2 linked regions of the Homo sapiens genome follow. The protein of the gene in region 1 purifies or fractionates together with the protein of each later gene. This does not show direct contact. Each region holds a gene or a part of one and is shown in the gene's direction. Other genes may lie near its edges. The genes, in order: CLCN4 and TMEM9.

Region 1 (16,035 bases):
CATCTCTTTCGCATACAAAAGACACTCATTACTCTGGATGTCTCAAAACAAACAAACAAAAAACCTTTTAGCCTGGGAATGGTGGCTAACACCTGTAATCCCAGCAGTTTGGGAGGCCAAGGCAGGTGGATCACCTGAGATCGGGAGTTTGAGACCAGCCTGACCAACATGGTGAAACCCTGTCTCCATTAAAATACAAAAATGTAGCCGGGCGTGGTGGTGGGCGCCTGTAATCCCAGCCACCTGGGAGGCTGAGGCAGGAGAATCACTTGAACCCTGGAGATGGAGGTTGCAGTGAGCTGAAATCATGCCACTGCACTGCAGCTTGGGCAACAGAGTGAAACTCTGTCTCAAAAACAAACAAACAAACAAAAGGCAAAAATAACTTTGAGCAATGCTACTGTGGCCAAATTTTACTTGTTGCAGTTGCTGTAGCAGAAAGAAGGCCTTTCCCTCCTGGCTACCTATGGGCACTCCCTGTCTTCTCTCTGGTCCACTCTTCCACAGTCCCCAACTTGAGCTAACTCCCACTTGTCCTTGGATAGCTTAACCATGACTTTCTCAAGGAGGCCGGAAGTGGTCTCCATCCCTGAAGAAATTTGGCCCCTCTGCTTTATGTACGTGTATGAGTTCGCTAGGCCTGCCGTAACCAAGTCCCACAGACTGGGTGGCTTCGACAACAGACATTGATTTTCTCACTGGAGGCTGGAAGTTCAAGATGAAGGCACTGGCAGGCTGGTTTCCCGAGGCCTCTCCCCTCAGCTTGCTGCCTCCTCACGTGGTCATCACTCTGCATGCATGACCCTGGGGTCTCCTTTTTTTTTTTTCATAGGGACACCAGTCAGATGGGACTAGGGCCCCACCCTAGCGGCCTGATGTGAAAACATAACCACTTCTTTAAAGAACTTATCTCCAAATATAGTCACATTCTGAGGTACTGGGGAGTTGAGACTTCAACATATGAATTTGGGAGTACATAATTCAACCCCTAGCGGTATTTTTCCACATCACTCAACACTTCTCTCATCAGGGATTCCCCACTCTTGATTGGGAAGACCTGTTTCATGACTGTCTTCCCCATGGACTGTAAGAGGGACTCAGCAGAGGGACACAGTCACTCCCGAGCGTGGCTGACCCTCGGGCCTTGCATTCTGCCTGGTGCAGACGGAGGGCTCCGTAAATAGGAATCGGATGAATCAATGAGCCAAGGCTCTGTTCGTTTCCAATGGCTGCTGTACTTAGCGGCTTAAAACAACACATATTCATCCTTTTCCTTTTCTGGAGGGTAGAAGTCTAAACTGGGTGTGAATGGGCTAAAATCAAGTGCCAGCAGGGCTGTGTTCCTTCCATAGGCTAGTGGAGAGATTCTGTTTCCTGGCCTCTTCCAGCTTCTAGAGGCCACTTGCATTTGTTCGCTTATGGCCCTATCCTCCATCTTCAAGGCCAGCAGTGTAGCAGCTTCAAATCTCCCTCTCTGATCTCTGCTTCCATTGCCAATCTTCTCTGACTCTGACCCTCCTGCCTCCCTTTTATAATGATCCTTGTGACGACACTGGGCCCACTGGGGCCACCCAGGATCATCTCCCCACGATCTTAGGATCCCTAATCTAATCACATCTGCAAAATCTCTTTTGTCACGTAAAGCAACATCTTCACAGGTCCTGGGAATAAGGGGGTGAACATCTTTGGGGAGGTCATTCTCCAGCCCACCCTAGAAGCACTGAGCTTTGAAGGGCCGGTTCCTGTATTCAGTATGTATGTACTCCGGCATGCATCTCAAGTTTTGCTTTGGAACAAGTGATCAGACGCTCCCCTCTTAGAAGATTCCCAGGCTCCTGGTGAAGTCCAACGGCAGAGGCTGCACATTCAGTGGCATTTGGAAGCATCTTGTCTGAGACCTGTGGCTAGAGGCACACGGCCTTCTGGAATCTGTGCCTTTCCATTGTTCCCACTAACAGACGCTCTGGCCAGATTGCTGTTTCTACCCTGCAATTACAGGCAGAATCCCATGAGTAATAAACACAAATTGTTTTATTGCAATGGAGTTCGTTTAAAAGAAATATTTTACTGCATCATCCAATAGAATTATCTGCAATGATGGAATTGTTTTATATCTGCGCTAAAATACCGTAGTGACAAGCCACATGTAGCTCTTGAGCATCTGACATGTGGCTAGTGTGACTGAGGGACTGAATTGGAACTTTTAAGTTAAATTCATTTTCATGTAAATAGTAACTGTGTCTAGTGGCTACCATAGAGCAGTGCAATTCTAGAAAAATCCCATTTCCAACCCAAGGCACCTGGACAAGGAGCAGCTTTTCTCAGAGGCCAGGTCCTGGGTGAGAAAAGCTGTTCACTGTCCAGGTGCAATAAGATAACTGACTTCTGTCTGTGCGTGGTGGAGATGCTGTCCAATGATGGCTATCGTGCATCAGTTTCCAGCTCCCCATTCAGTAGTTCGAAGCAAGGCATGGCAGGAGAATTTACACCAGGAGAATCAGCACAAGCTACAAATCAAGCCTCCCTCCCCATGCCCCACCCTTGGAGAGCTGGGTTATTTAACGATGACTGACATGCCACTGTGCATATGCCTACTGGAGGAGACAGGCCTACTGAATTGCCTTGGCAACATCTGAGTCTCCTGGCACTCACAGAGAAAAAGGAGACAGTGGCAGCTCCACAGTTCTTATTGTCAGAGAGGAAAAGCACCATATGGTTTTTTTAAGGGATGGCAACACTTCTCTTAGGCCTTAGAGCTACACGGGCTCTTTTCTCAGGCTTCCCAGCACAGACAATGTCCTTGACAACAACTCCACTCCACTGCAAAAGCAGAGGGATTTCAAAGCTGTTGTTTGTCACGTCAGTCAAGGCTGTCACTTTGGATCGATGTCAGGGCAATGGGGTCTGAGTTTGCAGCTTTTGGATGTCTGCTGAGATCTGTGAACACAGCCCAGAATGCCTAGAAAAGGCTGGATTGCATATTCTTATATCCCATGTCACTTACTTATTCCCCAAATCTTTTAGGATGCTGGCCATGTGCATAGCCCCCAGCTAGGTATGGAAGCAACTCATTCATTCATTCATTCATTCATTGGAGATGGTGTATTCAGGTGTAAAGGAGTTCAGGATACAAAGATAGATGAAATAGGGTCTTCACCTCCAGGTTTTATAAGATCCCCCATTTATAGAATAATTTACCAGATACTCAGGGCTGGAATTTGGAGGAGGTGAGGGAGGCACTTACCTTGGGTGCAAAACGTAAGAGGGCACCACAAAAATCAGTAATCAAGATAATATACTGGCCAGGCACGGTGACTCACGCCTGTAATCCCACCACTTTGGGAGGCTGAGGTGGGTGGATCACCTGAGGTCGGGAGTTTGAGACCAGCCTGGCCAACATGGCAAAACCCCGTCTCTACTAAAAATACAAAAATTAGCCAGGTGTGGTGGTAGGCACCTGTAATCCCAGCTACTCAGGAGGCTGAGGCAGGAGAATTGTTTGAACCTGGGAGATGGAGGTTGCAGTGAGGCAAGATCATGCCACTGCACTCCAGCCTGGGCGACGAGAGCAAAACCCCATCTCAAAAAAAAAAAAAAAAATATATATATATGTATATACACACACACATATATATGTATATATATACACACACACATATATATGTACATATATATGTACATATATAATTTATAAAATCAAAATTAGTGCAGAAAATTACAATGTACAAGATATGAACATTTTAAATAAGGACAGGCTGTTGTGGTTTGTTTCACTCCCCTTCAGTGTTGGGCAAGGGAGCATAGTCAATTCCAATCAGCGAGGGGTTACTTGGCCAGGAGGTATCTGAAGGGGAGGTTTATGTGGGTGCAAATAAATTGGGCCACGGGGAGCATTATACATAGTTTCTGTGCGTGTGTGTTTCGGTTGTAGGGTCTTTACTGACTTTTTTCACTTGGTTCAAAATACAAGAGGGTATCTTGATCACTGTATTTAGGGGTACACAACTTTTCTTGTGTCTCAAATTCTAATAATAAGGCACTGCTTGTGCTCTTTCCAGATCTCTCACTTACGTCTCACTCAGCTACAAGTGGTGGATACTATTACTCTTCCTCCTTCTCCTTGTTTTACAGAAGGGAAAAGTGGGGCTTGCAGAAGCTTGGCAAAATAGCACAGGCAGTAATACTGCAATACAGCCATGTAATACTTCAAGATGGTGTATGATTAAAGCGGTTGGCTGAGAACATTTGGGAAAATTTTAGTTCTGGTGTAACAAACTGTATCCCAGAGACAGTGCTATATGCTGGGCTTTCAAAGAGCAGGTAAATGCAGCTCCCCTCTGTCCTTCCAGGAGCTCAGGAGCTCAGGAGCTCAGGGGTTAATGCGAGTAAATAATTTGGGTCTAAGCTGGTGAGTGCTGTCCAGAGGGTCCCAGGAAGCTGTGGCTCCAAGAAGGGTGGAGGGGATGGTCAGAGGCGCCTGGGGAAGAAGCTGGGGTCCTGGCCAGAGAAGACCTAGCCTGACCCCAGGGTGCTCCAGCCTCCATCAGAACAGGAGGCTGATGTCAGGGCTGTCTCTGAGCCTGTCTGCAAAATGGGTGCACAGCAGATCTGCCCTACTCCTGTTAACCAGCTGCTGCGAGAATCAGATGACATGCTGCAGAGGAAGGCACTCTCTACAGGGTGCATGTGCTGAGGCGGGCGGATCAGTTGAGATCAGGAGTTCGAGACCATCCTGGGCAACATAGTGAAACCCCATCTCTACTAAAAATACAAAAATTAGCCAGGTGTGGTGGTGGGCGCCTGTAATCCCACCTACTCAGGAGACTGAGGCACAAGAAACGCTTGAACCCGGGAGGCGGAGGTTGTAGTGAGTTGAGATTGCACCACTGTAGCCTGGGCGACAAAGCAAGACTGTCTAAAAAAAAAAATATATATATATATATATATATAAAATATATATGTATAATATATAATATATATACAAACACACACACATATATATGGGGGCTTGGACACAAAGAGGCAATAGGGTCCTCACCTCTAGGTTTTGTAAAACCCACCATTTATAGAATAATTGAATAGTGAGTTTTAACAATTTAGTGGTGGGAAAATGTCTGTTTTAAAAATATACAGTGCATCCAAATCTATGAAAATTTCCCATCCACCTCTGTGCCAAGCCACACAGTTTTCCTCCCTAGAGATAACACCCTTAGCAGTTCCCGATGTCTCTTTTCAGAGGTGGTTTGTGGTGCACACACAGGTGGGCAATGACACGTCCCACATGCTGGGAGTACTACCTTTAAGGGATTTATAATGAAGAGAGCTTCCAGCACATCATACAATGGGGAACTCTTGAAAATGGCTGGGAAATGGAACATCTTGGGCATCAAATTATACTCCATCAGTAATTCAAACCAGGGTTTCTCGACTTCAGCACTATTGTACTGATATTTTGGGCCGAAATGTTCATTGTCCCGGGAGGTAGGAGTGGAGAGGGAGCTGTCCTGTGCACTGTAGGATGTTCAGCAGCAGCCCTGGCCTCTACCCACTCAATGCCAGGAGCACACGGCTCCTCCCACTTCAGTTGTGGCTGCCAAAAATGTCCCCTGGGGGAAAGGGAGCAACATCACCCCATTAAGAACCGCTGTTCTAAACCTTGTATGACATCTGTAGAAAACTGGCAGATAAGAGAAAAAATGTAGAAGATTCAAAGGGATAGGAAAGAGAAATCTGTGAAGACAATGGAAAGAGCCTGTAGTCCCAGTTACTTGGGAGGCTGAGGCAGGAGGATTGCTTGAGCCCAGGAATTTGAGGTTGCAGTGAGCCATGATCGTGCCACTGCACTCCAGCCTGGGAGACAGGGTGAGACCCTGTCTCGAATGAACAAAAAACTCAAAGGTTATTATTCCGTAACTATTGAAAGAATCTTTTCATGAAGGATGGTAATAACCAGCTTTCTATCTCCACACAGAGCAAAGTAAAAAGAAGTAGGTTTAAATGGAAGAGAAATTAAAACTGGACATACAGATGGTTAAATATTAACAACGGCCCCTGAATGGCACTTTCTTTCCTAAAGATCTTCATGAGCAGAATAATCTAGGATGGCTAGGGATTGTTCCCTCGGGACTTTGTGGTTAAGAATTCAGGATCTTCAAGTAATGAAATCTGCATTAAAAAATTAGCCAAAACTGTTTGTTTATTCCATAATCATGTCTATATGGTGCTTTTAAGAAAACAATTTTTTTGTTGCTATAAAAGCAATACATATTCACTGTGGAAAAATTAGACGATATCTCTAAGCTTAAAAGAAGAAAAATTTAAAACACCCTTAATCCCACTAACCAGTGAGATACCATGTTTGATACTTTAGTGAATTCATTTCCTAATAGTTTTCTGTGTTCGCAAAGGTATATGTGTAGATATAAATATATTACACCTACATAGAAACGACGGATCACTCAGCACATAATGCTTTGAAGCTTCCATTTTTTTTCCCATTTAATCCGCTGCACATGTCTTTTTCCATCCGTGTGTACCACCGTATTAGTTTTAATTCTTCCACTGCACAGATGGCTTATAATTTAAAACATCCCCTGTTTTTGGAGATTTAACTTGTTTCCAGTGCTTTGAGATCATAAGTAATATTGCAGCAAACTTTCCCTAGTCAGGGGTTTGCACACCGTTCTTCCCCCCACCCCCACTCCCCACACCCCAGGACAAATTCTTGGACATCAAGTTGCTGGAGCACATGATACCAACAGCTGTAGGGCCCGGAGTAATTGGCGAAACTGTGTATCTGTAAGGCATTTGGTAGGAAAAATGCTAAACAGACCACCAGAAAGATTGCTCAACTTACATTCCCATGGGTGGTATTGGTTTTTGCTTTTTTTGGTTTTGTTTTTTAATCTTGGCTAAAATGACAATTTGAAAGGCGAGGGTGGAGGGTGTTCAGACAGCTCTCTCATTCTGTTGAGAATTGCTTGGCCCAGTTCTGGGCCTTGTCTGAATTGCCGGTTTGCTGCAATGTTTTTTACAATTGAGCAATCACCTAGAAAAAAGAGAAGGTGAAACTAACCTACTGCAAAAAAACTGCTCCAGGATGAAGAAGGTTGCCTGTATTTCGTCATTTCAGCCAAGCCGGAATACGGAGCAAGGCTGTCTGCACCGTGCTACCATCCTCTTCAGGCTGCAGGGCATTTTGTATACCCACCACCTCCCATTGATGCTGGAAAATCCGGTCACAGAATTCCGTGCAGCCCAGCCCCTGAGGGTGGGGCGTCCTGTCTCCGGGACGCCGGGTTTTCTCTGGACACGAATGCTCCGGGGGTAGGAGGCGAATGACACTGGCACGGCGGGGCTCCGGAGCCAAGAGGTGACCAGGCTGGCTGGGCAGGGCTGAGTGGCTGGGCCGAGCACGTGATGCTCCCAGCCGGCCTCCGGGGCCCTCCGGGCTGAAATCGACATTTGCCTCTGGCAGGAAAATGAGCTTGTCAGTTTCTGCCTCCATTAGACCCTCAACCCAAAGGAGCAGGAGATTTCGGTAGCGTTTTAACTTTATCTCAGAATCTGAAAGCGGAAGGTAAGCTGCTTATCACTCAGAAAAACAAATTTGAGAGGAGTGACCTAGTAAAGTACACTGCGACTTTGTTGATTTTTAAAATCTGGTGTTGAAAATAATTGATCGCTGTGAGAGTCAAGGGCTGTATTTATCCCCAAATTAGAGATTAACCTTCTGAACAGAAATTTGGTTAATTTGGAGGGAATCACGGTATAAGGGCCAGGGTTAAATATAGAAGGACACGAAAGCTGATGGAATAAACTGCAAGTAAACTTAACTCTAGCCTGCTTGTAAAACAATCTATTTCATGTCTCCTTCAGGGCTGTGAGCAAAGGGAATGTTAAAATTGTGATTTTTAACTCAAGTGAAAGTAAATGAATCTATTTGCAATTGGAATACAAATAAAAGCAGTCTTTGCTTTTGTCCTTTTACATTTCAAAAACGCTTGTGTATTTTGGCAAAAGAAAAGTTTATATGTGCACTGCTTAAGTTTGAAATACGCTATTTCAAATTTACAAAATTATCACAGTTGTAATTTTCTAAAGTCTTTCTAGGCAAGGCTGTTTCAGTTGTGAATGAGAAATGTTGACATTGTACATATTTTCTGTGATAGTAAAATGACTCACTTCTTCAGAATGTGATAAAGATTAGAAAATGTGAAATAATGAGTTATTGTGAATTAAGTCATGTCTCAGAGATTAAATGCCTTGCCAGAAGATGTAAGAAAACAGAGACACAAATACAACCATGCTCACGTAGCAGTGCTTTATTTTAAATCATCACATATTTAAGTAAGTAGTAGAAATACGTGGTGTCACCATTTTTTCCTTTGGCAAATACAAATTAATATTGGAATGCAGCTATTCAGAGTAATTAAAGCATTATTCATCCGTGCAATTAGTATAATGTTCCATAATGAATTGCTTTGAACTAAAGTGTTTGGTATAATACTCGATATACGGCTTGAAACATAGAAACTCTAGGCAAAGTATGTCCATGCTATATTTTGTGTCATTTTGATTTGCACAAAATGTTTATTTCTCCACTGCATTTGATAAATACTAGTTTTAAAATAAAACATGAAATTGTATTTCCTTTCACTGTAATCCCTTTATTGCTAATTCTTTTGAAATCCTATTACTCGCTTGGAGCCTGTAATAATTTGGATTTCTCCTCCTGTGTGTTGTTTTTCATAATTCTTCGCGAAAGGCCAGGCAAGCTGCACACATCAAGCGAAACGCCTGAGGGGCGGCCAGCGCGAGGGTTTCTGGCCATCGACCCTCACCTCCCGGGACTTCCAGGGTCTTCCCCCCACCCCGCGCACACCTCCCTGCCTCGCCCCGAGGGCGTCACGTGGCAGCGTGGGGCCCGCCTCCTGGTGATGTCACGGCGCTCGCAGCCGTCGCGCTGAAGAAAGGATGCTCGAGGATGCTGTCCAGGTGGGCGGCCGCGGGCGCGATGCGGCACTGCAGGTAAGGGGCGCGCGGCGCCTGGATGCCCTCCCCGGCGCCCCCGGCAGCGCGGACGCTGCAGGTGGAGCCCGGCCCGCGGGCCTGCAGCCCGGCTGCGCCCCCAGAAACCCAAAGTGGGGCCTCTGGCTGCTGCGGCGCCTGCTGCCCACAGCTGCCTGCTGCAGCTGCATGCACCCGGCCGGGGATGGCCCGTGGCAGGCCCACGCGTGACTTGGGTCTTGGCGTGCCCGCCCCGAGAAAGCGGGCAGGGGCCAGACAGAAAGACGGGGGAGGGAAAAAACCGCTCCGGCGGGGGAACAAAATCTGAAGTGACCACACTGCATGCATTCTAAGTAGACAGAGGGGCTTTTAAGAGGTAACTATCAAGTGTTTTCCTAGTGTCATTCTGCTTCTTAAATAACGACATGTTTACTAATTACAGGCCTTTGTCCTCAGTAATTAGCCTCATTTCTTTCAAAGCAAAAGCGGGCTGGGGAGTGGAAACTTCTTGGTTAGCAATTTAAGAGCCAGATGTGCAATCTAAATTGCTTTGCATTATTTTGCAAGGTTCCAGCATTTACAGGGCATACGTCAGAAACGTATTTTTTTTTTCCTTCCAGGTGTTTTAAGTAGATTAAAAAAGAACGGTATCCAATACAATAAAAATAAATTGCAGCTTCCAAAGATAACATGTGAGCGTAAGAGACAGCTACATCTCTAAGAACCAAATGATCTTTAGCAGAGAGTGGGGGTGGAGATAACACCAAAACCTAAGAATTCCCAGAGTTCTTGTTAATTCTCTCGCTGATAATTCGCTTGCTGAATGGAGAGGCTTGATGACAGCGCCAGATGGAGGGGTCAGGTGACTTCAGTTCTAGCATGACAGTGGGTGGGGGATTTTAATGGACTGTTTCTAGAGCGTTTACATGCCTTTCTCGGGGTCAGGAAGAAACTACAGCCAGGACGTGTGGGGGCACCCTTAGGGGGAGAATGTGGCATTATTTTCCCCTCTAAAACCTGACCCTTCTGGAAGCTTTGTTGTCACTAAACTGTATTGGAACTCACATCATGAATAATTTGACCAACCAGCAACGTTGGGGGGCCTGTAAAGCAATGCTATTTCCATCAATAATTGAAGGAGGCATTTCTTTCAGAATTTGGGACACCCAGATGTGTTGCTGCAGTAATTTAGTAACTTGTTTATTGCAATTTTCTTCCTTTGGTTCAGTTTGGTTACACAAATTAAGATCCCCGGGTCCCCGCCCTCCCTTCTCCTCCAGCCCAACCCTAGATAGAGCAAAGCAGATGATAGAGGTGGATCTAATACAGACCTAGATTCCACTTTTGGCTTTGTGACTGTGCAGCCTTGGATATGTCATTTAGTGTCTTTGGGCCTCGACTATCTCGTCCTCAAAGTAACAAAGGGATTTAGGTCAGGGTGTCTCAACCTTGGCACTACTGGCATTTGGGGCCAGATAACTCCTTGTGGTGAGGCTGTCCTGTGCATTGTAGGATGTTTAGCAGAATCTCCGACCTCCACCTACTAGATGCTAGTAGCACTTCCCCCTCCCAGCCCCCAGTTGTGACAATCAAAAATGTTGCCAGACATTGCCAAATGTCCCCTGAGGGCTCCCTTGCCCCCTGTTGAGAACCACTGATTGAGATGATCTCGAAATATTCTTCTTCGGGCTCCAAGAATTCATTTTCTTATGATTGGTTTGATGCCAAGCCCTTGATCAGAAATCTGATTCCCTTTCTTAATATCACATATATTGGAAAACACAATGTGAAGGCGTTTTTATGCTGTGAATTTCCAGAAATAGCTTCTGTGAAAAGGGGAGGAGCTGTTTGTATGCCATTTGTAGCTGGGAGGCGAGCTTGGCAGAAAGGAGAGTGTTAGGGAAAGAGGAAAAAAACAGAGCACTAGATGAACGTGTGTGGAAACCTGCCGGGGCTTCGTGCTCAGCAGACCTGGAGCACGTCCCTGGACGTAGTCTAACCCTGGGTTAGACCTAACAGCTGAGAGTCCATTTCCTTGTCTGCAAAAATGAGAATAACAGTGTCCACTCGGAGGTGTTGTGAGGATGAAACGACACGACATCTGGTGCTGGTGGGGGACGTGGTGAGGACGAGAGGGTGGTAATGTCTATGCAGCTAGGAGGAGGCAAACACAAATGGCCCGCACCACCAGCGACACGGACACTCGCTTGGGCAGACATGGTCGCATGCTTTAAGCTTCAGTCCAGGACTAAAGATCTGGCTTTGACACCTAGGAGGGTGACCGTGGCTGCATCACTTCACCCTGCAGAGCTGCTGTCGGATCTGTAAAGTGGGGCCAACCGTGCTTGCTGACTCTGCTTCCTTGGCTGTTGGGGAGGGACGGATGGAAGTGAGAGGGTCTGCAGGCTGGGAAACTCCCAAGAGACAGGAAGCGGGGGTGGCAGCAGCATAGCAAGGGGGGGACATGTTTACTATGTGTGTGTATGTGGTGGTGGTGGGGTGCTTAGAATGGCCAGAAAACATTTCCTTGTGCCCCAGGCTTTGGACTTTGATGTGTCCCTCCCCTGGGTTCCCTTTCCGTTGCCATCAGCTTGCTCTCTCTCTCTCTCTCTCTCTCTCTCTCTCTCTCTCTGTCTGTCTCATCTTTCCTGGCACCATGAAAATGGTCTCCTGGGGGGAGATAGGAAAGCCCTGGTGGGGGAGGTTGGCCTTCGGTGAGGAAGACCCACTGTGCAGAGGGCTAGGGTGAGAGCAGCTGGCTCCATCCACTCCCCACGCCACTGTCCTCACAGGCTTCAGTCCACGGACATCCCAGGGCAGGCCTGTCACGCTCCTGTGTGCCTCCAGTGGGCTTGGTGCTCTGTATGAGCCATCTGGCCTTGTCTCTTCAACAAGGTAATATCATGAAAGAAATTTTTAAAAAGGGAGGTGGGGTATTCTCCATCAAACGAGACTTAAGAGACGGAATAGCCAAATATCACTTGTGGCCCTCGATTGGATTCGGCCCAAACAAACGTGTAACAGGCATTTTGGGGATGCCTGGAGATGCTTTGATGTGACTGGCTATTAGGTGACACTAGGAGACTGCTGCTGCTTTGATTAGATGTGACAGTCTGTGATGTGTTCGGCAGCCCCTCGGACAGATGCAGTGATCCCCACCCCTGGCAGCTGCAACTTGGCATCACCCTCTCCCCTGGGGTTTGGTCTGGACCAAGTAATGAACTTCCAATGAATACGTCTAGCAAGGGGTGGGGGAGAGGCACTTCCACCATGAGGGTGTAAAGGGGCTTCTGCCTGGGGTGTGTTTTCTCTCTTGGGTTGCTTACACTGAAGCTGCCATGTCGTGATCAGCCCTACAAAAGGGTCCATCTGCCGTGGTGAGGACCCGAGGTCCATTCCAACAGCCTGAGAAGAACTGAGACCCGCTGACGGTGTGAGGGTGTGAGCGGGCTCGGAGGCAGACCCTTCAGGCCCAGTTGAGTCTTTTTTTTTTTTTTTTTTTTTTGAGACAGAGTCTCGGTCTGTCACCCAGGCTGCAGTGCAGTGGTAGCGATCTCAGCTCACTGCAACCTCCGCCTCCTGGGTTCAAGCGATTGTCATGCTTCAGCCTCCCTAGTAGCTAGGAATACAGGGACACGCCACCACGGCTGGCTAATTTTTGTATTTTTAGTAGAGATGGGATTTTGCCATGTTGGACAGGCTGGTCTCGAACTCCTGACCTCAGGTGATCCGCCCACCTTGGCCTCCCAAAGTGCTGGGATTACAGGCATGAGCCACCACGCCTGGCCGCAGTTGAGTCTTGAGATGCTTGCAGCCCTGTGAGACACCTTGAGCTGAGGCACCAGCTAAGCCACTCCAGGGTTCCTGACACAGAAACAGTGACATGATAGATGTTTGTGTCCTGCTGCTATGCTTTGGGGTAAGTTGTTAGGCAGCAATAGATAGCTAATACATGTGTTTATGTAGAAAAGTCTTCTTGTTTAGAGATGTATACTAAAGTGTTTAGAGATGAAGTGTCATGGTAGCAGTCATTTACTTTTTTTCTTTTTTTGATGTTTTCTTGAGATCTCTTTAATGTATGACTTAATAGGAGACAGATGAATTCTCATACTTGGTTCTACATTCAATCTGTTTCAATATCGCATGTCATGTAGCCTCTGGAAAATTCCATTGTATGCTCATGAGAGAATGAACTTAGAAAAAGGCAAATAACAATGTCAGAATATTGTGAAATGTTTTTGACATCATGGACTCCCTTAAAGGGACTTGGGGAGCCCAAGGAGTCCCCAGATGACACTTTGAAGATCAGGCTTCAAGATCAATAATTTACTTTTAAATGGTTCAGTTAAATGAAGAGAGAGAAAGAGATAAAGCAGATAGAGCCAAATGTGAACAACTGTTCAGTCTGATTGGTGTTATTCACTGGATTCTTCTGGATGATGTTCTGTGTAATTGAAAATGTTCATAATAAAAAATTAAGAAAAAAAGAAAAGAAATGTAAACCCTTAGACACACTGGGGATTCTGACTGAATAGGTCTGGGGGTGAAGCCCAGGGCTTAACCTGTGCTCCAGGTGCCCCCATCACATGGGCCAGAGGCCCCAGCCACTTTGCCCCAGAGGTCCTCGCCTTACCTGCCTCCTCTCCACCTGTCAGCCTTGCAGTAGCAGACCAAAGGGGTTTAGTGTGATGACGCATCTCTTCTACCAACCTGGGGGAAGAGGTGTGTGGGGACAGTCCCCCCTCCTATCCCTTCCCCCATACACACTTTCCCTTGGTAACAAGACCTTTGTTTAACCACATTTTCAGTGGGTGGCTTTTTTATGTGCAGGAATTTTTTTTTTTTTGTGATAAGTATTTTTTTAAATGACTTTCATTTCTTTTCTTTTTTTTTTTGAGATGGAATCTCTCTTTGTTGCCCAGGCCGGAGTGCAGTGGCTTGATCTCGGCTCACTGCAACCTTCATCTCCCAGGTTCAAGTGATTCTCCTGCCTCAGCCTCCTTGTAGCTGGGATTACAGGCACGCACCACCACGCCTGGCTAATTTTTGTATTTTTAGTAGAGACGAGTTTCACCATGTTATCCAGGCTGGTCTCGAACTCCTGACCTCAGGGGATGTGCCCGCCTCGGCCTCCCAAAGTGCTGGGATTATAGGCTTGAGCCACTGCTCCCGGCCCCTTAATTACTTCTTCATTCAGCAAATATTCCTTGGGTCTGTGCGTCTAGGCCAGGGTTTCTCAACCTTGACACTGTGGACGTTAGGGTCCAGATGATTCATTTTTATGGGGGGCTGTTCTGGGCAATGTAGGGTATTGAGCCGCATCCCTGGCCACCATCCACTAGATGCCAGTGGCACCCCATCTCCCAGTTGTAATAACAAAAAATGTCTCTAGACATGGCCAAATGTCCCCTGGGGGTCAGTATTGCCCCCAGTTGGTTGAGTCCTACAAGTCTAGGCAGTGGGATACATGTTAGGACCAAATGGACAAGGTTCCTGCCCTCACGGGACTGATTTGAGCTGAGGGAAGAGGAAGTAGCTGTTGGATAGGCTGTGTGTTGAGTGAAAGGATGGACAGCAAAGGATGCACAGCACTGGACTCCAAACGCTGGTCAGGGAGGGCAAGAAGGCCTCTCTGAGGGGTCGCACTTGAGCAGAGATCCGAATGGAGAGAGAGCCACTTGAGCACGGTGGGCTGAGTGCTCAGGGCTGAGGGAACAGCCAGTGCAAAGGCCCTGAGGCAGGGCAGGACAGGAAGCGTTTGCGGAAAGCAGGGAGATCGGCGTGTGCAAAGTAGAGCTACCCAGAGAGTAGGGGTGGGGACAGGTGCTCAGAGGGGCGCAGGGGGCAGGCCATCCTGGAACTGGCAGTTGTGGTGTCAACCCTGGATTGTCCTCAGTGTGATGGAAAGCCACTGGATGCTCCTGTGTCGGGGAGTGACATGTTGAGACTGGGTTAAAAGGACTGGCTGCTGTCAGGAGCAGAGTCAGAGGTGGGTGAGAAAGAAAGCAGGGCAGCCAGCAAGGAGGCTAGGAGGCGAGGCTGGAGGCCAGATGGGGAGTGGCCAGGGTGACCAGGTGAGTTGGACTGAGGAGCTAACCTCTTTAGCAGCAATGTTGTCCTAGGTGCCAGAGTGGGCCCTTGGTGATCAAAGAAGCCTGGCGTGGGAGGGTAGTGTGAACTACAGGGCAGGACATGGAGGCTGCAGACGTGTCCTCATGCATCCGGCTCAGTCGCAGCATCACCTTTGATGGGCGGTGGCCTCCCAGGGACAGCAGAGGAAATGGCCATGCACATTCCCACATGACACCTGAAAAGCTCTCTTTCCCGCTTCTTGTCGTGGCTGAAGTCTCCCAAGCTGTCAGGCTGCCGGTGGCTCCGGTGATTCTGGCTACACAGCTTGCTTGCTGTCCTCGGGCCCAGCACATTTGTTCCTGCCACTGAGTCTCTGAATTGGCTGTTCTCTGTGGCTGGAGGGTCAACCCCCACACTTGTTCCCTTGTTGCCTTCTCCAAGTGGCCCTGGTCGCCCTGCACCGCCTGTCACGTGCGCTTCTGCGGGATGCAGTGGCCTGCAATCGGGGGTTCATGGAAGCCCCTGCCTGCTGGCTTGCCATCTTCACACTGTTCTTGACGTGGTCCTGCCCTGCCCCAGGGCCTTTGCACTGGCTATTCCCTCAGCCCTGAGCACTCAGCCCCCTCGTATTCAACAGAGAGCCTGCTGTTGGCTGGGTTGAAAGTAGATGTGAGACCGGAGCCTTCCTCACAGAGGGGACTTGAACCCCTCTTGAAGCTGCAGAAGAGGAGAGTCCTGGAAGGCTGGGGTCAGGCCCTTGACCTGCCCTGGGGACGACACATGGGAACAGCAGGGTCATGAAGGAGAGGCTGTGGGTGGGCGCTCCCCCTGAGGGTGGTGTTCCCCTCTTTCCATCTGAGGCAGTTGGGGCGCCCAGGATGGGTTTGGGGTTTGCTGATGTGAGAGCTACCCCAACGCTGTGTTTCCTTATGGGGGAGGCTGCTCCTGGTCCTG
Region 2 (7,913 bases), on another chromosome or scaffold:
GCACACACCTTCTTACCAGCCCTAGCCACTCTGCTCAGGGGCATGCCATGAGTGGGCCAGCGCGCCCCATCCGTCTTGCTCTCCACAGGAGCAATGAGCCCACCAGCCCAGGTTTACTTTTCCTGGCCCCAGCTTTCCAGCCTCTCCACAGCCTGTTCTTCCTTGCTCTTAGTTTCTGATTGCTTTCCACCCTTCATCATGAACTCTTCTACAGCCAGGGAGGCCCTTGTGTTCCCATCTCTACCCCGGGAGCCTCTCGGCATCAGGCTCCAGACTTCTTCCTCTGTCATCTGCCTGCTGTCGTGATGCCTGCTGTGCAGACTCCCTCAAGTTAGGACAGAGTGCTTCCTCTGTGGAGTAGGGCCCTCCCTTTCCTTTCTGGGCATGCTTTCCCTCTGAGCCCACGTTGCCTCCAAGTCCTTTCTTAGTGCACCACTTGAGGAGTCACTGCCAGCCGGACACAGATGGCCCAAGACTAGCAACGGATTTCTAGCCCTGGCCTCAGATAATGGTTCATAGGCACGCCGGTCTCTTCCTCAGGTCATCATTGTCATCTACCTGTCCGTGGTGGGTGCCCTGTTGCTCTACATGGCCTTCCTGATGCTGGTGGACCCTCTGATCCGAAAGCCGGATGCATATACTGAGCAACTGCACAATGAGGAGGAGAATGAGGTAAGAGGGCTTTGAGTGCCCAGGCCCTGGGTCCCTGCATGTGCGTCCCCAGGGCAAAACCCAGAGGAGCGTCACCTAGGTCCAGGTCCCACCTCCCCAAAATGCTTCAAGTTGCTCTTCTGGTCAGTGTCGTACACATCACCCAGACTCAGCAGGGACCTGCTCTTTGCCCTTCCAGATGAAGCAGGACACCGGGCATCAAGCAGTCTCCATGTACAAGCCGGGGGAGCCATGTCATCCTGCTGTACTGTGCTTCCAGGCAGAGGGGGCGCAGCCAGCCAGAGCCAGTCACACATAGATACACATGATATCCCCCGTGTGCTCAGACATTGGTGACAAGCTGCTGGTGGACTGGACGGCAGCAGGTTAATTTGTTTGTCCAGTGATTCCACAAACATCTGTTGAACACTTGCTCAATGCAAACCAGAGCTCCAGGGTCTGGGGAGAAATGTAGGATTTCAAGAGCGGAAGAGGAATGAGACAGTGGTGCCGGGCAGGGGACATTGCCAAGTATGTGTGAGGAATTTTGAGCGTTGCAAGGATAGGGTAGAGATGTTTGAATAGTGGCAAAGAGAGCTGGCCAGTAGATTTAGGTCACATTATTAAAAGTCCCAAATGTCAAGCTAAGGGGGTTTGGCTTTATCTGACAAGGAAAGTGGGGAACCACTGACCCCAGACAGCCTGCAAGGCCTCCAGGAGTTCATGCAATGGTGGGGAGCTGGCAGGGCTTGGACCAGGCCCAGTGCAGTTAACAAGCGCTGTCACCGTCTTCCCATTCATCCTCATACTAAAAAGTTGTGGACACCATGGCGAGGAAACCCGGGGGGACAGGAGGGCTCAGGTGAAGGGCTCTTCGTGGGAGTGAGACGTGGTGTACCTCCATGCTGAGCAGAGTTGTGATGAGCCCTGCACTCCCCAGGTGGTCTAGGGGAATCTTGCCTGAGTGAGGACTGCACAGCCCCGTGTGCCTCGGGCTCCCCCTTTATGCGCTCATGTACCAGCTAGCTGGGTGCATGAGACAGCAGAGCGGGCTGCTTAGAGGCGTGGAGCCAAGGCAGGCGGGGTTGGCTGCTGCTTCCACTCTGAGCTCTGTCCCCAGGGCCTTGCTGCTGGAAGATACTCCTGTTTATTGACTGATGGAGGGATGCCCTGAGTGAACTCATGCGTATGCATAAGGAATATCTAGTCGGGAAGCGCCTCAGCTAGGCCTCAGAGAATTAGTTGAAGAAACTGAGAGTCATTTAGCTTAAAGGAAAAGAAAAACAACTAAAGGAGACGCATGATAGCTGCCTTCAGAAGTTTGTAGAAGACAGCTTGGCTTCATCCAGGGACAGAGAGATTTAACACAATATGAGGAGGAGGCTGGGAGTCTTCCTGTAGACAGCGTGGTCTAACTATGGGGTAGGTGGGCTGGGCTCCCTTGCAAGACCATGAGCCAGTTCCTCACCAAAAAGAGGACCCAGGGGCTCAAGTCTAAGTGTGAAGCTGCCTGGGTGATGTGGGTCTGGGCCAGCATGAACAGCGAAGAGAAGGGCAGATCAGGGAGGGAGCCTGGCTGCTCTCGAGGGCTGTGTTGCCCCACCCTGCGCACATGCCTGGACTGCTCCCAGTTTGCCCCCAGCCTCCTGCTGACATGAGTTTGGCCGAAGGTGGAGCAGAGGGGATGAGCCTCGCCCCATTGGAGCTAGGGCCTGGGAGGTGGTGGCACTGGCAGTTGGGTGGTCTGTGTTCAAGAGGAAACCTCGTGTGCCTACCTGGTTATTAATGTAGAGTAATAGCAGCTCTGATAGGGGAGGAGCATCGCTAATAAACACTCAGCGATTAGGGGTAATGTGGTAATTGCAGTCCTGGCTGGGGTAGTAATTGAGAGATGCAGCCCAATGATTTCCGTGGAATGCATGGCTCTGGGGCATGGCCTTGTTATGTCTCCTGCCATCCTAGCCAGGGAGCCAGAGGGAGGGCAGCTTGGGGAGAGCAGCTTGCCGTCCCTGGGTATGAACCCAGGTCTCTCTTACCCCCAGGAGACCTGGAGTGCTCCTCATTTGAAGCCTGTTTGTATGAGGGGGCCTTGGGAGGAAGAAGGGCTAGATTTGGTAACTGTGGCAGGACTGCCTGGGAGGACAGTAGGCTGTGATAGGCTGCAGCACATAGAAGCTGGCGAGCCATGCTCCCTCCTGTAGGGGAAGTTGCGGCCCTGGGATGGACAGGATGACACGCCCTCACCTCTCACCTGAGGTTCTAAAAGCTCATAAAAAGTTGTGTTTAATCTCTTTGATACCCTGACCTAGGGTGCAGCCAACTCTCGCTGGTTGTGGCCTGGGGCAGGTAGATCTCATTGGGTGCCCTTGGCTGGGTAAGGAAGTGCCCCCAGTCCCGTTCTTTGGCATCATCTCTCTATCCCCTCACCTCCTGTGATTCTGTGTGGTCTCCAGGTCACAGATGTCTGTGGTTCAGCAACTCTGCTTTTCTCAGTGTATTCAGAAAACCTGCAGGTGGCACAGTGTTGAGATTTGCACAGACCTTATGTCTGCCCTCGGGGGTTTAAGCCCCAAGACGGCCAAAAGCAGGTAAAGCAGCAGGAAACGTAAAGGCTGGCAGTAAGATCTGGCTTCGTAAGACGGGTGGTCAGCTGAAAAGTCAGGTGCCTTGGGAGGCCCCTCTTTACTAGACAAGGGGTCGGAAAGTTACCCTTCTCGTTGTGTTAGTCTGGGAAGGAAGGCTTCCTGGCAGAGGGGGATTTTCAGTGCCCACTCAGGGTGGTTGGGAGAGTGACCGCTGAACTGCAGGGAGGATGAACAGGGCATTGGGGCTGGACAGAACCCAAGGAGCTTGTCTTTACAGAGACTGGGGGCCCTAGTCCTGGACGACGAGGGATAATCTACTGCCCCTCTCAGTGCACAGAGGAAAGGGATGTGGGGAAACATGGGGCTGGGGGGCAGGCATTCAGCTGAGCGGCAGCAGCACCTAGGCTGTAGCCATGTCTCTGGGTTTCACCCCAAGAGGAACAAAGTCAGGACATGGCCTCTTGGGTTCCTTGAAAGTTCGCCTAGGCCTGTACAACTCGATGACTTTAGAAGGAAAATTCTGTCTAGGCTCCAGGAGCTTTCAGGCCCTACGCCCCAGAAGTCTGGGACCCAGTTAGGGGTGAGATCTGGAGGTCAGGGCATTTTTTCAGGGTTAGGGACCCCTTGGTTCCTTCTCCCCAATTCCTGTGACCAGGAGCTCTCCTGCCCAGGGGGTAAAGAACTGGAAGAGGAAGAGGAGGCCTCCCCCTCAGCCTCAGCCCCGTTCATGGAGGGAGATGAAAGCTTGTCATGTTCCCTTTGAAAGCGCTGGCAGAGCCTCAGTAGGCCCTGATTGCTGGGCGCTGCCTCCCCTGGGATTCCAGCAGCATTAGGCATAATCCCTGGGCTCAGACGTCCTTTGAAAGGAGGAAGCAAGCATGTTTGCTGGGGCAGAAACGGCAAACAGAGCTGTTTTAGATGTGCAGGTTGGGCCCTCTTTGAAGAGAGACACATGGTTTCTCTGAGGCTGGGGATGTCGCTGCTCACAGCATGGGCCCAAGCTCTGGAGAGGTCTTCAAAGTGCTCACCCTGCTGGGGCAGTGGGTAGAGTTCTGGGCCCCCTTTGGGAGAGAGTATACAGGGAAATCAAGGAAAGGTGATGATGATGATGGGAACTGGAACATGCAGGCACCGGGGAGAAGACTCGGGCCACTGAGGAGCAGTCTCCCCTCCTGTCTGCACATGGGTGGCAGCTGTGTTCTGAGGACCCCAGCCCTGGGAAGCTGACAGTGAAACACGGAACAGACACACTGATGAGGGCAATCCAGTCGGCCTCCTCCCCTGAGGGCAGAATAGAAAGATGTGCGGTTCAACAGACGCTTCTAGAGCCTCCAGTGGGGCAGCACAGCATTGTGGTTAATCACAGTCCTGGGAGGGGCCGAGCCCTGCCATTTACTATCCTTGGTGCTAACCTCCTGGTTTAGTTTTCTAAGTCTGGAATACACATAATCATGTTTACCTCAGCATAACTGTTGCGATCGTGTGTATGGAAGCTTTACAAGTGTTTGCTCGTCCTTAAGAATGCGCTATTTCAATCAGGTGTTAATACTTAAGTAGCATCATGATTGCTGGAGGGAAGCCTGAGGGGCAGCGTGCACAAGGGCCTGAGTGAGGATCACCGCAGGTAGACAGAGGATGCATGGACCAGTGTGGCCAGAGGCTGGGCTGGGGGGTAAGGGGGGAGGTGAGGCTGGGAGTGCCCTTGAATGTCAGGCCCAGCAGGGTTTTATTTGTGAGCAGGTGGGTCCCAGCTGGGGTTTTTGGGCAGGGAAACAGCATGAGTTGGTGTGTCATAGGAAGGTGGCCCTAGCCGCAGCGTGCAGGGGTCAGGGAGAGCCTCGCAGCAGAGGTGCAGTGGGACTCAGCAACAGCAGCAAGGACTTGGGTCAAACATGGAAAACTCAGAGAGGCTGTATAGTCCTCTTGCTGAAGGGCTTTGCACTAGGACCATGCTTTGCTGAGTGGCTGGTAAGTGATGAGACCACCTGGTCATGCTCCTGTGCCTGGGATTGGGGAGGAGGGAGGAGGAGCAGCCAGAGAGAGGAGAGCCGCCTGAGGTGGGGTTCTCACTCTCCCTGTCTCCTTGTCATCAGGCTTTGGCCAAGTCCAGTGCCAGCTCAGAACCAGTGCTTCTGGGCAGACTGAAGAGGGTTTCATCTGGGACGGCCTGAAGGGCTCAGGGCTAGTTTGATCAGCTGGGGCTTATCCACACAGTTACTTGGGTCCTTCCAGTGTGGAGAAGAGGGCCTCGCTTGATGTCCTGAGCATTGGTTCCTTTAGAAGTGCTCTGTTCTTGCTCTAGCTGTGGGGAAATATACCAGCCTGTCTCTTTGGTTGTCCATGCTGGCTCCCTCTTAGGAGAAACCAGCCAAAGAAGGATCCAGCTGGGTCCTAGGATAAGAGATATACGTACATGGGTTCAAATTCCGACTTGGCCACTAAACAGCCATGCAGCCTTGGGCAGCAAGATGATTCATCTTTCAGAGCCTCAGTTTCTGCAGCTACAATAGGGGATGGTTTTACCCATTTGCCAGTGTTGTAAGCCTGGGAATAATCTGTGTAAAGTGCCTAGCAGAGCGCCTGGCACATAGTGGCACTTGTCATAGTCACACTGGTCTGGTCCCCCTGGGGACCTCCTGGGAATCCATCCATGTCCAAGCTCTTTTTCTGATTGGGAGGGGCTCCACCCGCCTCCCCTCCTAACTGCCCTTCTGCTCCCGAGTTAACCGGAGGCCCAGCCTCAGAGGGAGAGGGGAGGAACTGGTGGCATTTCTCCCACTTCCACCCACCATACTTGCTGCAGAGCAAGCAAGGATGAGGCCCCACTCTGGGCTGTCTCTGAAACAGATGTGGAGTCTTTAATACCTTTTAATCAGACTATTAGCGATGGAAACTCAGCCTCTCAGTGGCAGCTTTCCCCCACTTAGGAGCTGTTTGTTAAGACTTTACATGAAGGGAAAACAAATGATACTGTGGTAATGTGGTGAATTTCAGCATGTTCCCTTAATGCTGTGCTCTGGGCTCTCCCTGGCTTCCCCTTCTCAAGACGCTCCCCTGAGATACAGAGCAGTGGAAGGAGGGCAGGGCTAAAGCTGCCCCACCCTTCCAAGCGTAGCACCCCACCCCACACACACACTGGAGCCCTGTCATGAGAAAGATGGTCCCAGAAAGGATGAGATTGGGAATGGAAAGAAGAAGAGAAGGCAATCCAGCCCCCAGAGCCAAGTCCCGGTGGGCCAATAGCTTCCCAGATGGGTCTTTAGTGCCCACCTCATGTAGACGGCCACACTGAGGCAGGACTGGGTGGAGGCTTGGTCTTAGCACTGTGGCCAGCTCAGTCAGCACAGTGAACAGGGAAGGCATGGAACTGGAAGGAGGGGCAGCAGCCATGGCAGTTTTCACAGGCTTTCTCCTGGCAGCCAGCCGCCAGCCTTACTGCCTAGTGGCTTCCAGAGCTAGGCTCTGATATTAGTCATCGCTCCTAGGGAAGAAAGAAACCAAACATTTCTTGAGCCCTAGCTCTGTGACAGCCAGGATAGTAAGTGCTTTATATGTGTGTTATTTAACTTTGCCATACCCATCTACTAATCTTAAACCAGTGTATTTCAAGCAAGCCATTAGGTCATGAAATGAATTCTGTGAGTCATGACCAGGATTTTTAAAAAAATGGAATGGAACAGAGCAAAGAATATCAGAATGCATTACACTAAGTATTGTTTTATGAAACTTCTTTTCACTCTGTGTGTGTGTGTGTGTGTGTGTGTGTGTGTGTGTGTGTGTGTGTTAGATAATTTGGTAACTATAATTCCTAATGACCGTATAGCAGAAAAAAGTCTCAATGACTACATTTACTACATTAAATTGAAGCTTGGAGAAATAAAGTAACTTGTTCAGGGACACATAGCCTCATAAGTGACTGAGGCCATGTCTCCTTCCCAGCCCCCGCTGTGGATCTGTAGTTCCACCTGGGACGCGAGCCTAGGGGAGGCTGAGGCTGGAAGGGGCAGGTGATCCCCAGCCCAGGAACAGAACCCAGGGGTCCTAATTCCAAGCTCAGTATGCCCCCTGCCTGACATGGCCACACGTGCCTTTCAGGCGTTGCCTGAGCCTCACCTAGCCTGGCACAGGAAGCCTTCCTCAGGACCTGGGCGGGAGGCTCCCAGAAGGCAGTGTCCATCTCTAACGCAGCTTAGAGAGGAGCACTCACAAGATGAAGTCCTCAGAGCTCTGAGAGGATGATGATGAACCCTCTCCCAGCCTCCTCACTGCCAGCTTGTTCTCTGTCCACCCTACCCTCACCTCACCACCCCCCTTCGCCCCAGCGTAGCAGCTGCATGGTGACAGAAGCCGTGCCAGCTTGGGGCATTAGAAGCAAAGTTGCATTTACTGGGCGGCTCTGGGCTTAGAGAAGTGCACTAATCCCTTAAGAGATGTGTGGCAGGAGATGAGAGGCAGGGAAAGCTAGGGAGGAAATCCCCACGGGGGTGTGGGCCTGGCCCTCAGCTCTAATTCTCTCCAAAGATCAGGTTCAGGTCCTGCAGGAAATGCAGAGGCTCCGGAGCTTCAGAGGCAGAGAAGTGGTAATTAGGGGAGGATGCTTTTGACGGCAGCAACAGTTCTGAAAGCAAAGGGGAAGGGGATCAGCAGAGTCAGATAGGGAGGAAGCTGAGCTGTCCT

What was found.
Region 2: the proteins of CLCN4 (region 1) and TMEM9 purify together in Homo sapiens (co-immunoprecipitation; 3 studies listed by BioGRID and IntAct, with this or other methods). This does not show direct contact.

Annotation. Positions count from the first base shown.
Region 1 is NC_000023.11:10,149,522-10,165,556, forward strand, and holds the start of CLCN4 (H(+)/Cl(-) exchange transporter 4), read left to right. Parts: upstream 1-7,453; 5' UTR 7,454-7,579; intron 7,580-8,767; 5' UTR 8,768-9,030; intron 9,031-16,035. UniProt on the Homo sapiens protein: Strongly outwardly rectifying, electrogenic H(+)/Cl(-)exchanger which mediates the exchange of chloride ions against protons.
Region 2 is NC_000001.11:201,136,579-201,144,491, reverse strand, and holds part of TMEM9 (proton-transporting V-type ATPase complex assembly regulator TMEM9 isoform a precursor), read left to right. Parts: intron 1-540; coding exon 541-672; intron 673-7,913. UniProt on the Homo sapiens protein: Transmembrane protein that binds to and facilitates the assembly of lysosomal proton-transporting V-type ATPase (v-ATPase), resulting in enhanced lysosomal acidification and trafficking.